Linked DNA regions of Homo sapiens: region 2 is linked to region 1. The links come from fine-mapping of genetic effects on gene expression. A gene starts in region 1. The other region holds a variant in brackets. All regions are shown on one strand. Distances are from middle to middle. Region 1 holds the start of GRIA3 (glutamate ionotropic receptor AMPA type subunit 3). Region 2 overlaps GRIA3 (glutamate ionotropic receptor AMPA type subunit 3).

What was found. PIP is the estimated chance that this variant, and not a neighbour inherited with it, causes the effect. A credible set is the group of variants that fine-mapping cannot tell apart.
Region 2: its variant is the best candidate, but not a certain one, in a credible set for the expression of GRIA3 in fibroblasts (GTEx, PIP 0.54).

Annotation. Positions count from the first base shown.
Region 1 is chrX:123,180,881-123,186,316 of GRCh38, reverse strand. GRIA3 (glutamate ionotropic receptor AMPA type subunit 3) reads right to left here and starts at 2,039. Exons shown (of 16, transcript NM_007325.5): 1 at 1,673-2,039; 2 at 327-485. The coding sequence starts at 1,781.
Region 2 is chrX:123,421,714-123,426,713 of GRCh38, reverse strand. All of the region lies in intron 11 of GRIA3 (glutamate ionotropic receptor AMPA type subunit 3), which reads right to left. Among named protein-coding and RNA genes, the nearest start is that of GRIA3, 240 kb to the right of the region's middle. RefSeq lists an enhancer at 1,981-2,130. The variant C/G (reference allele first, on the strand shown) is at 2,137.

The sequences.
Region 1 (5,436 bases):
CTTTTTTTTTCCCCAGTTAAAAAAAAAAGAGAGAGAGTGTTGGAGAAGGAACACACTAGGTTAGCATGGAGGAAAATGAAACTTTTGCATCAAACACTATTTGGAGCAGACTTTTGCCCACTGTCTTGAGTTTTTCCCACTGTCTTAAGCCCCTCAGCAGTATCATTTGGAGTTGATTTATGCAACATGAAACCGGATGGATTAGAGCCCCTAAAATATCTACTGAAGCAATCATCTCCCAGCACATACACAGACCCTAAGTGCCACAAGAAAGATGCAAATGAGGTCCCCAACGTCCCAAAGGGAGGAAAAGCAGATCTACTTACAAGCATTTGTCACGGAAAAACTATTGGAGGAATCCAAGTGATCTACGTGGTAATTCAAATGGAAGGGCTTCTCGGTGGTGTTCTGGTTGGTGTTGTATAACTGCACGGCAAAGCGGAAAGCGCTGTGCTCCTGCACTGTGTTTCTCATGAAAAGTCCACCTATAAGCAAAGGGAACGGAGATTTGGCTTGTGTTCCCCCACACTAGGGCCAGTTAGGAATTGGGGAACAATATAGATACCGGATACCTCTCAATGATACTGGGGTGTGGGATTGAGGATTGATATTCAACCTGTGTGTCTTTCAAGACTTGTGAACTCAGATTTTGGCCAAGAGAAACCTGGCTTTTCTAGACTGAAAAGAAGAGGCTAGAGAGAAGGGAGAAGAGACGAGGGAGCCGTTTTGGGTTAGGACGATGGAACCAAGAGTGAGACTTGGTTCTTTCTTAGTCGGCAGCCTTCTTTTTTTTTAGTCGCCCCCCCCCTCCGCCCCCCGCCCATCCGCACAGCTGGTCATCTTTTCATTGTGTGAAGGGAAAGGTTGGGAAGAAAAACAATATTGTTCCCCCTGCTACCCCAACCCGTTCCCCATAGCCACCCTCCCCCGTGACAATACAGGGGGTTGGTTCAGTAATGGCAAAAATTCTAACTTCTAGACTTGTAAATACGACAGAAGCCAAGATAACTCCCTCCAGGCGCCCAGGAGCCGGGCTCCAGACAGACACAGCGGCAATTCATGAATTCGTGGTCTGCGTGACTTCGCCGCTTGCCCGCTCAGCTCCTAGTCTCACCCCCGCCTCCTACCCCATCCACCACCAACGCCTGCTGCTGCCCGGGTCTGGGAGATCCAAAGTGGGCTCCACCTCCCCCAGCACCAGCCTGTCTCCCGACAGCCGGAGACCACGGACTGAGCACCCCGGGCCCGGGTTATGCGCCCTGGCGCGGCCAGACAGTCGGCATCACCCTGGGACAACTTCCAGGAGCTGCACGCACGCCATGGCAAAGTCCAGAGCAGCGAGCCGAAAAGCCTCGACTCTTCACCCCCTTGCAGCATCCCAGCCTCCTGCTCGCCTCCGGTGCTCCTCTCGGCTCGGAAAACCTAGCAGTTCACCCCCACTAGCCCCAGGAGACCCCTCTCTTGTCCCAGAGGCTCTTCAGACCAGCCACCTCGTTGAGGCTCAGATTCCCCCCGCCCCGCCCCCCGCCCCGCACCATCTCTGCCCGGTCCCGGCCCCAGTCCCAGTTCCCAGGCCACGCAGGACAGGGACCCACCGCAGGGAAAGCCTTGCCGGGGCAGTGGTCTCGGGTGAGGGAGAGCCTGGACCGACGGCTGGCTCGCTTGCGCTTACCTATGCTGATGGTGTTGGGGAATCCTCCGTGAGAATGACCCAAAAGCCCCAGGACTAAAAAGAAGACCGCCCGGAGCACGCTTTGCCCCATTTTCTTCTGCCTGGCCATGCTACGCCTAAAACGAAGCTGACAAGAGCATGGGCGCAACTCAGGAGTCGTCAAAATAATAATAGAAAAAGAAAAAGAATTCGCTGGCTCTTACACCCCCTCCCCTTAACTTGCTCTCGCTCACTCTTCCTTTCCACCCCACACTAGTCCTCCTCCTCCTCCGCTGCCGCCGCCTCCTCTTCTTCCTCTTCTTCTCTCTCCCTCTTACTCTCTCTCTTATTCGCTCGCTCTCTCTCGCTCGCTCTCTCTTCCTTTCTTGCTCCCTCTCTCTCCCTCTCGCTCCCAGGATCTCTCACACCCCCTCCCTTCCCCCCACCTCACTTCTGTCTTCACACCAATCTGGAAGGCGGGTTCATTGGCTGCAAGCTGGGTTTGCCAAAGCGATTTCTGTCCCTATGATAGAGAGAGAGAGAGAGAGAGAGAGAGAGAGAGAGAGAGAGAATAAAATCCTAAAACAGAACAAAACAAGCAAAACACTGAAAAACAAAAATAGAGAAGCAAAAGAAAGAGAACGAAAGAATAAATTATCAAGACAATCTGAGACTCTCTCCGCGCCCCCCCCCCCCCGCAAAAGATGGTAGGTCTAAAGAGGGGGGGAAAAAAAGGAAAGAGCGAAAAGGCTCAGTGCCGGTGAATTGGGCTCTTCCAATTGGGCCAGTAGGGGGATATTGATCAAAGTTGATCTGACGTGGAATTAAAGCCGCACACCGCTTAGCTCTACTGCAAACTGCAGCCCCGGACTGCAAAGCCTAGGCGCTGGCGTTTGTCAACACCGGAGATGGGATCAATAGAAATACACCACTCCTAACGTGGATCAACCTTTCAAGCTGCAACGTCCTCCCACCCTTTAAAAAAAAATAGCTGCATTGCCTCTGTGTTTGTGTGTCTGTCTTAAAGAAGGGGGGCCTTAGGAGGGCCATTAGTGGTTACTCCGGAGTCTTTGTAGAGACTCAGAGAAGCAGTTCCCATCACAATGCGCCCGAAGATGCTGCGCATGCCCGGTCTCTGCCGCTCCGCTTTTACAGCAGAGATCCGAGGGCGAGTGAGCAACCCCCACCCCCATCCCCGCAGCTTTGGGAGGCGTGTCCCTCCCCTTAAACTAGTGCTGAGGCCGGCTTGCGGGGGCATGGGGTGGGCGGTGCTGAGCAGTGATGGGCAGTATGGGGCTGACTTCTTTGGAGGGCATAGGAAAAAGTATGTGCGTAGAGGTAGTAACTAAAAGGTTAATGAAAAGGACGCTCAGGCTCACTGACCAAGGAGGAGGGAGGTGTGGGAATGAGCTGGTCTGGGGGTGGGGATTGAAAGTTGAGGCTGGAGAAAACTGTACCTAGCTGCATTGATCCCTTGGTGTTGCCTCTGGACTTAGCAGCCTAGGCCCCTGACTGATGACCTCAGAGGTTATCAATTCTTTCTGACTCTTCTTCCCCTCTGCTCTAAGGCGAGCAAAGAACCTATGAAGTCCTACAGTACAGACCGGATTTCAGTGACGGTGGCCTTCTCCATAGCATGCTGCGGATGAACCTCCTGGGCTATAGACTCCTCTCCCTAGCCCCTTTCTCCCGCAATGAGGAAAAAGAATCCTCTTTATCTCTCACGTTTTTCACTTTTACTTTACAGTTACTGTAGAAGGCATGGGTTTTATCCTCCCCACACCTGCTATTTTCCTTTTCATATCCTCTCCTCCTGGTCTAAGTGGAACATGAACTCTCCTGCCAGTGTAAAGCGAACTGATATACATCGGGGATAAAATTGGGAATATACAGGGGATAGAAGGACCCTGGAGCCCAGCTAGTATATCAGTTGCTACAGAACTTTGGATTTGGCGAGACGTAGTCTGGAGCCTGGAACAATGGAACAAAATGGCTTCAAACCAGAAAAATTGTCCTAGGCTCTTCCCAAATTTCTATTCATTCTGATAATGCATAATTTCCTCCCACCCACCACTCATAGAAATCTTTTGTCTCCATTTTGATATTTCATGGACAGGAGTGAAGGAGAAACATGAGAGTCTGAGGAGACTCATCTTTTCAGTGGAAGAAGCATTAGGGCAAAGCGGGTAGCAGAGGTAAGGTTGGTCATCCCCTGCCAAATGTAGACAGGGACATAGCATTATTCGGGAACATGGGCTTAGGAGGCATACACGTCCAGGTTCGAGTCTAAGTCCCATCACATACAGGCAGTGTGTGACCTTGAACAACTTTGTTAATCTGAACCCCAGTTCTCTCATCTTCAAAATGGGAATATTAATATCTTTCTTTATAAGGCAGTTGTGAAAATTAAGTAAGATAATTGATATGAAAGCATCTAATTCAGTGCCTGCCTCAGAGAAAAATCAATAAATGTTAATTTCCAAACTCCCTTCCCTCTTTCTCACCTAGTAAAAGTGCCCTCTTGTCCCCCAAGTTTCCTCATGCTGTCATCCTCCTCTCTCCTCATATTCCACATAACTTCAGACTCTGCTATCAAGTCTATGCCAATGTTCCACATTAAAATCTTTCCATTGTGGCTCCTCAAAAGGCCCGGGAGACAATCTTTACTAAGATTCTAATGGCAGGCAATGACAATTTAATATTAAAATGTCACATTTAAAGAACCTTTACTCTGTGCCAGGCACTAGGTGTTTCTCCTTTTTAGATAACACAGTTGCATTTTAATAGGAGCCTTCAATGCCTTGTCCCAAAGGAACAACTTTAATGAGGAGGTTTTAGTTTTGATTTCATGTGAGTGAACAATATATTTTGTACGAGGAGAAAGTGACTTTCAGCATGTCTCACTTCACTCCTGAAAGTAGCCACGTCCCCAGCCATGCTTGGCCAGCTGTAAGAGGAGGTGGAAGAAAAGATCTGTGGCCATCTTCACTGTCATTTGGCTTGAAGAGTGATGAGGGTGGCTCAGTAACTAAAGATGAGAGGCAGAAAAGTATTTTGGTGCCTATGCACTTGAAAACCCTCGAAGTCATGAATGTAAATGCCACCCATCCCTTCCATTGTCATCCTCCCCTGCCCAATACCTTTTTCCCCTCTCTTTTATCTGCTGCCACTCTTTCAATTTTTAGCTGTCAGTGGCAGCTGTTGGCAGAGTTGGACTACTCTCATCTGAGCCAGCAGGGGCACAGTGGTAGACTAAGCATATTGCTGTTGGTTGAAAAGCCTGTATAATACATGCAAATTCTTTAGCAATCGATTCCTCACCCAAAAGAGCAGGGAGACACTTTATAAACTTCAACTTTGATTTTCCAACGAGGGGTTAGAGATTATACTAGCAGCATCATAGCCACCAGAAGTTGCCAACAAAGCCCCAAACCTAGCTCTCCCTCTGTGGTTAAGAGTATCCCTGCTGAATTTAGGATTACCTGCTAGCCTTAGTACCTATGATCTGTACTTTTAAATGAGCTCTATGATATAGTTTAAATAGCAAGAAAATAACCATTGCAGTTTTTATCAAAAAGTAAAAAGTGTACTTCTCTTCATGAGCTTTGTGCTTGTTTCAGGCTTGAGAGGTGCACTTGGATAAGCATAAAGAACTGTTGGCCAGTGGAATTCTAAGAGGTGATCTATACCGTACAGTGAGCCTCATACTTGCCAACTTCATAAAAATCAGGAAAACAACAACAGAAATCATCCTATTTCATTGGAAGGAAACTGCTATACCCTTC
Region 2 (5,000 bases), 240 kb before region 1:
CTGAGGTGTTTGTTAAAATGCAGATTCAGAATAGCTGAATGCCCAAGAATCTGCACTTCTTAAGCATCACAGGTGATTCTGCTGCAAGTGGTCTGCAGACCAAACTGAGAAACATTGTTCTTCTACATCAGTGATTCTCAGTTCTGCCTGCATATCAATATCATCTAGGGAGCTTCAGTCAAAACACGTCAACACAAAAAGACAAAAAACCTTGCCTAGGCTTCAAGACCAATTAAATCATAACCCTGGGGGTTGGGACTAAGCAGCAGCACTTTATAAAACTCTCAAGGTGCAGACAGGGTTGCAAGTTTGGTCCTGCATCATGAGTGTTCCTCAGAGACAGGGACCATAAGAAGTTATTGGACAGTGTGAGGGAATTGAATGCTCAGTGATGGGTAATGGCTTGTACTCAGGAAACTTCATCTCCTTCACAGTGTTGCTGAAGGCTGGCTCTGTCTGCAGAAATGAAAATCTGCTCCCTAGGTTTTATAAAACATTGCCACATCATCCTTAGGATAATTCTGCTGTGTGGCAGAGCTCCATCCTAGTTACGCTATGTTCTCCCATGCCCAGAAAAACTCACAGGAAGAGAACCCACTCTGTCATAAAGTCAAGAATAGGCGTAGGAGCCTGGCATATCTCCAGGCTCTGTGGGAAGAGGGTAGTTCTGGGCTGAGAGCCGGCAAATCAAGCTCTTCTCTGTCTGTACCAGCATTTCACCACTTTAAAGCAAATTTAAATTCCTGTGTCCCAAGGTAACCTTTTTCTGGCCTCTGGAAAACTCAGTTGTTTTAGATGCTACACTCTGAATAATTTTGGCAGGTATTTTGATAAATATTTATTATTGGTTAACTATAACAAACTGACTTGATTTTTTTTAAATCTGTAGTTCCTGTTCGTCCCTGGATTCCTGAGACAACCCGTATTTATTTCCTGAACATGATCACTTTTAGCTTTTTGAATTTGAAAATCTGCTTTGCAGTAGATTTTTCTAACAGTTACACTATCTCAGGATTTCATCTGGGAACATTTCTCTTTTAATCAGAAGTAAAAACATCTGGATGAGTCAGAAAAGAATGTGGCACACTTCTGAATGCTAAAAGTATACAGGGTGTTTTGATTATGCATTTAGACCTTTCAGAGTCTTTCTTCATTGTTGCCACATACATTTAATTTATTCTGAACTGATCTGACTCTAGAAATAATTTTGCTATATAAAAGATTAACATTCCAAAGAAACATCCATAGTAATAGAGGAAGAAAAATGATAACAATTATAGCTAATACTTATTGAGCACTTCTTGTGTGCCAGACTCTGTTCTAATTGCTTTACCTGTGCCAACTATTTTAATTCTCTATCCCTATGGTTAGGTACTATTTTAAAGATAAGCAAACAGAGGTATTTTACAGATAAAGAAACTGAGGCACAGAGAGGCAGAATAGAAAATAAAACATTTAAACTTATACACTAGGAGAGAAATACCCACATTTTTGTAGTATAAAATACCCGTATTTTGTATAAGAAAATCCAAAATGGTGTGCAAGTTATAGAAGGTACAAATTTTCTCCAAACACTGAGAAATATAGTGGCATGAAAACCAAACATATTTGTATAATTATTGTTTATTATCTGTTGTTCATTTGGGACAGAACTGTGACTGTCATTTTTATTTGGAATGATGAGGTTTTGCCAGACCAAGGAGAAAACTGACTTTGGAGTAATTCCAGAATCACAGTTTGATATGGAAAGAGGTATATTTTGCTGCTGTGAATACTAATGGTAGTTTATGCATTGTCTACTTGACAATGTGGAGAAAAATACAGTAATTTATGGAAATTACACTGTGCCATTGTATTGAGGCTAATGGACTGTGGCTGTGTCAGTCTGATCTAAAATCAAGCCTGCACATCATAATCTGGTTATTTTGGCCACTTTAGTACTGACTCAGATCATCATGTGGTTGATCTGAATGACTCAGCTGTTGGTTGTTGACATGACTGAAAATAAATCTAAATGCAAAATGGTCATTTTCATGGCCTCTTGTCTACATGGTTATTGACTTTGGCAATTTTGTGGTTAATGTCATGATATACCTATGATCATGGAGAATTTGGGTGATTACCCACATAAAAATG[C/G]TATAACAGTACCTGCATACCTCAGCAGAGATAGAAAAGGAGCTTCAGTGGAATCAGTGTGGAATGCACAAGCTTGCATTCAACATTCTCGCCTCAAAACAGTAGTAGCTTAGACAAAAGATTTGATGGAATTTCCACCACTTTATTCCCTTGTTTAGCATAAGCGCCTCAATCCTTTCACTGAGAAAAAGTGCAGTGGAACCTACAGGGAAGAAGCTCCATAGGCATTTTTACATTTACCTTTTCTCATTAGGGAAACTATAGCCACTTAAACTCACATTTCACATGGAGGTTATATAAAAAGTGACTGATGGGTCAATCCCATCACATTTTATAAAGGATCTATTAAAATAAGACAAGACTTTATAGTTGAGTTAAAAAGACCTGTCATTTTCCAGTATCTTTCCCTCCATTAATGCAGCTACAAAATGTTTAACATTCATTTCAAATAGTTTTGTTGCACAAGACAGATTTCAAGGTTAGCGTAATGAAATGGCTGTAAAATGCTGCACATTTAGTGTTTATAAAAGTGCATTATAAGAAGCGTATCATACCTTTTGAGGAAATGTAAGAGGAGGCGTGAAGTTAATGAAAGTAAATTAGCAACAAGAGGAAAACAGACATATAAAAAGCACTGCAAAATACGTACATCAAATAATATACAATGCTCTTGTTATCTGTAATAATAAAGAACTAGATTTTCTGAGTTAATAATAAAATATATTTTATGACCTTTGAAATGATAATAAAAGTGAGCTATGTGCTATAACCTTCATCTTGTAAGTAAATTTTATAATCTTCACTTTACTAGCTTTACAAGATGAAGAGCTGGGACTGAAAACTGCTTCTCTATTGTACAAACTCTTTATCATTCCTTTTTTTCTCTTCTTTCTTCCAAAGTATGCATCATTTCTATACTCCATTTAATGCCATGTCTGTGGCAGATTTTTAAAAAATGTGCAGAATCAATCTTTGGTTCTTACAGTCTTCTCTGATGGGAATAAGTAACCATGTCCCAAAGACTGAAAACTACAGCTTTTAGCCAGAAAAGCCATGAAGTAGTTGTAATAAAAATTCTGCTATTACCTCATTAATTTATTATTACATCACTACTACTTTGAAGTGAATTTGCAGTAAGATAAAGACAGTGGTCATACATCAGCAGAGGAAAGGGTATGCTTAAAATATAGCCAAAAATCCTATTGTCTTTGATCTCATTTATTTTATACCCTTCATGTCTTTTATTATTCTGCACATACTTTACATTTTAAAGGAGGATCTACGTGTCAACTAATCTGGACAGACCCCCTGCCCTCTTCAACAAAGTACTTCATATCTTGAAAACTTAACAGGAGAGTAACACCTTTGGAAACATCTATACACAGTAATCAGGTTCAAGTTCATCTGTTCTTTCCATTTTCTCTGTAATAATTCCCCCAACTCTCATGTCTTCAATTTGTCTAGCCCTCAGATGTCCCTGCAGCTGCACAGAAAGTCAGCAGGGGGAGCATTTGTCTGGAAGGACTTGGACTCTGGACTGCTTAGTGGTTCTATCCAAGTTTTACAAAGGAAATAAATTTCGTATTAAAAATAAAGTTACAACTTCCAGCCAATATCAGTAAGACATAGTAGAATAATACAATAAAAATATTTGCAAGAGTTGTAATCTTTAACAAAAGCAAGTTCAAGAAGGAGTGTTGCTGGTTATTTCTCATCAGAGGTCAGCTCTTTGATACTAACTGGTATTTCAACTGTATTCCCAAGGAGTTTTAGGAACTAAAATGCAAATGTTATATTAGCTGTTAGTATTTGTGAAACTAGCATGATTATGTGCAGCCAATTTAATAATGACAATAGCTATTATTTATTGAGAACTTACATGCTAGGCACTGTGCTTTTTATTTCACAGATGAAGAACTGAGGCTTAGCAAGGTTTAGTGATTTGCCCCAGGTTACACAACTGCTAAGCAGATTGTGAATCTAGTGAGGCTAACTCCAGTGCCCACGTGCTTAACCACTATGCTTCTTCCATCTGCCTGTACCCATTGCCTGTCTTCTCCTTCCCCACTCAGGGGGAAAAAGGTTGAATTGAATCTCCTCGTACCTTCCACCGACTCCTCCTAATAAATCAGTTTGTATGTGGACAAAACCTCAGGTTATTATATTGATTACCTTCTCTAGAGTTAGCTCAGCCTCCAGCTTCATGTAGAACAAACTTATTCACTCTGAACAATTATGGTAGTTCAAACCTAATATTGACATAGACTCTTTAAGCTTCTAGGTAGCTGTGAATAATTTGGTGGAAATGTAATGATGCCATCAGTTTTTCTCATGATGTCTTGTTTCTGATTTCCCAGTCTCTTACTTTGAGCATACACACTCTCGATAATATTTTAAATGCTCACTGCCTTCTTTCATTGCAAACCAGAAAAAAGGTAGAGTTTCTTTAGAGGTTGAAAGAATGGAAAACAGCTCTTATGCCTGAGCATGAGGAGAGGAATGGAACAAACAGTGCAACTTCAGGTTGGTAGTAGGAGGCAGTGTGCAGTAGTGGAAATAATCATACTGTTGCCTCTGAAAACCTCCATGACCTTGGATTTCATCACATCATCCTTCGGGTGCTGTTCCCTTGTCTGTGATATTGGAAAAAGCAGCATGAAGTGGAAAGAGCATGTTTTGGAATTGGAGCTTGGTTTGTACTCAGGCTCTGCCATTAGCTGTGTGGCTGGGCAAATTATTTAATCTGACTATCACCTTCTTCAACTTAAAAATAAGTATAATGCCCACGCTGCAGTGGTGTTTTGAGGATTAAAATCCACCTGATAATGGAGGTAAAGTGCCTATACACAGTGGGAGCTGAGGGA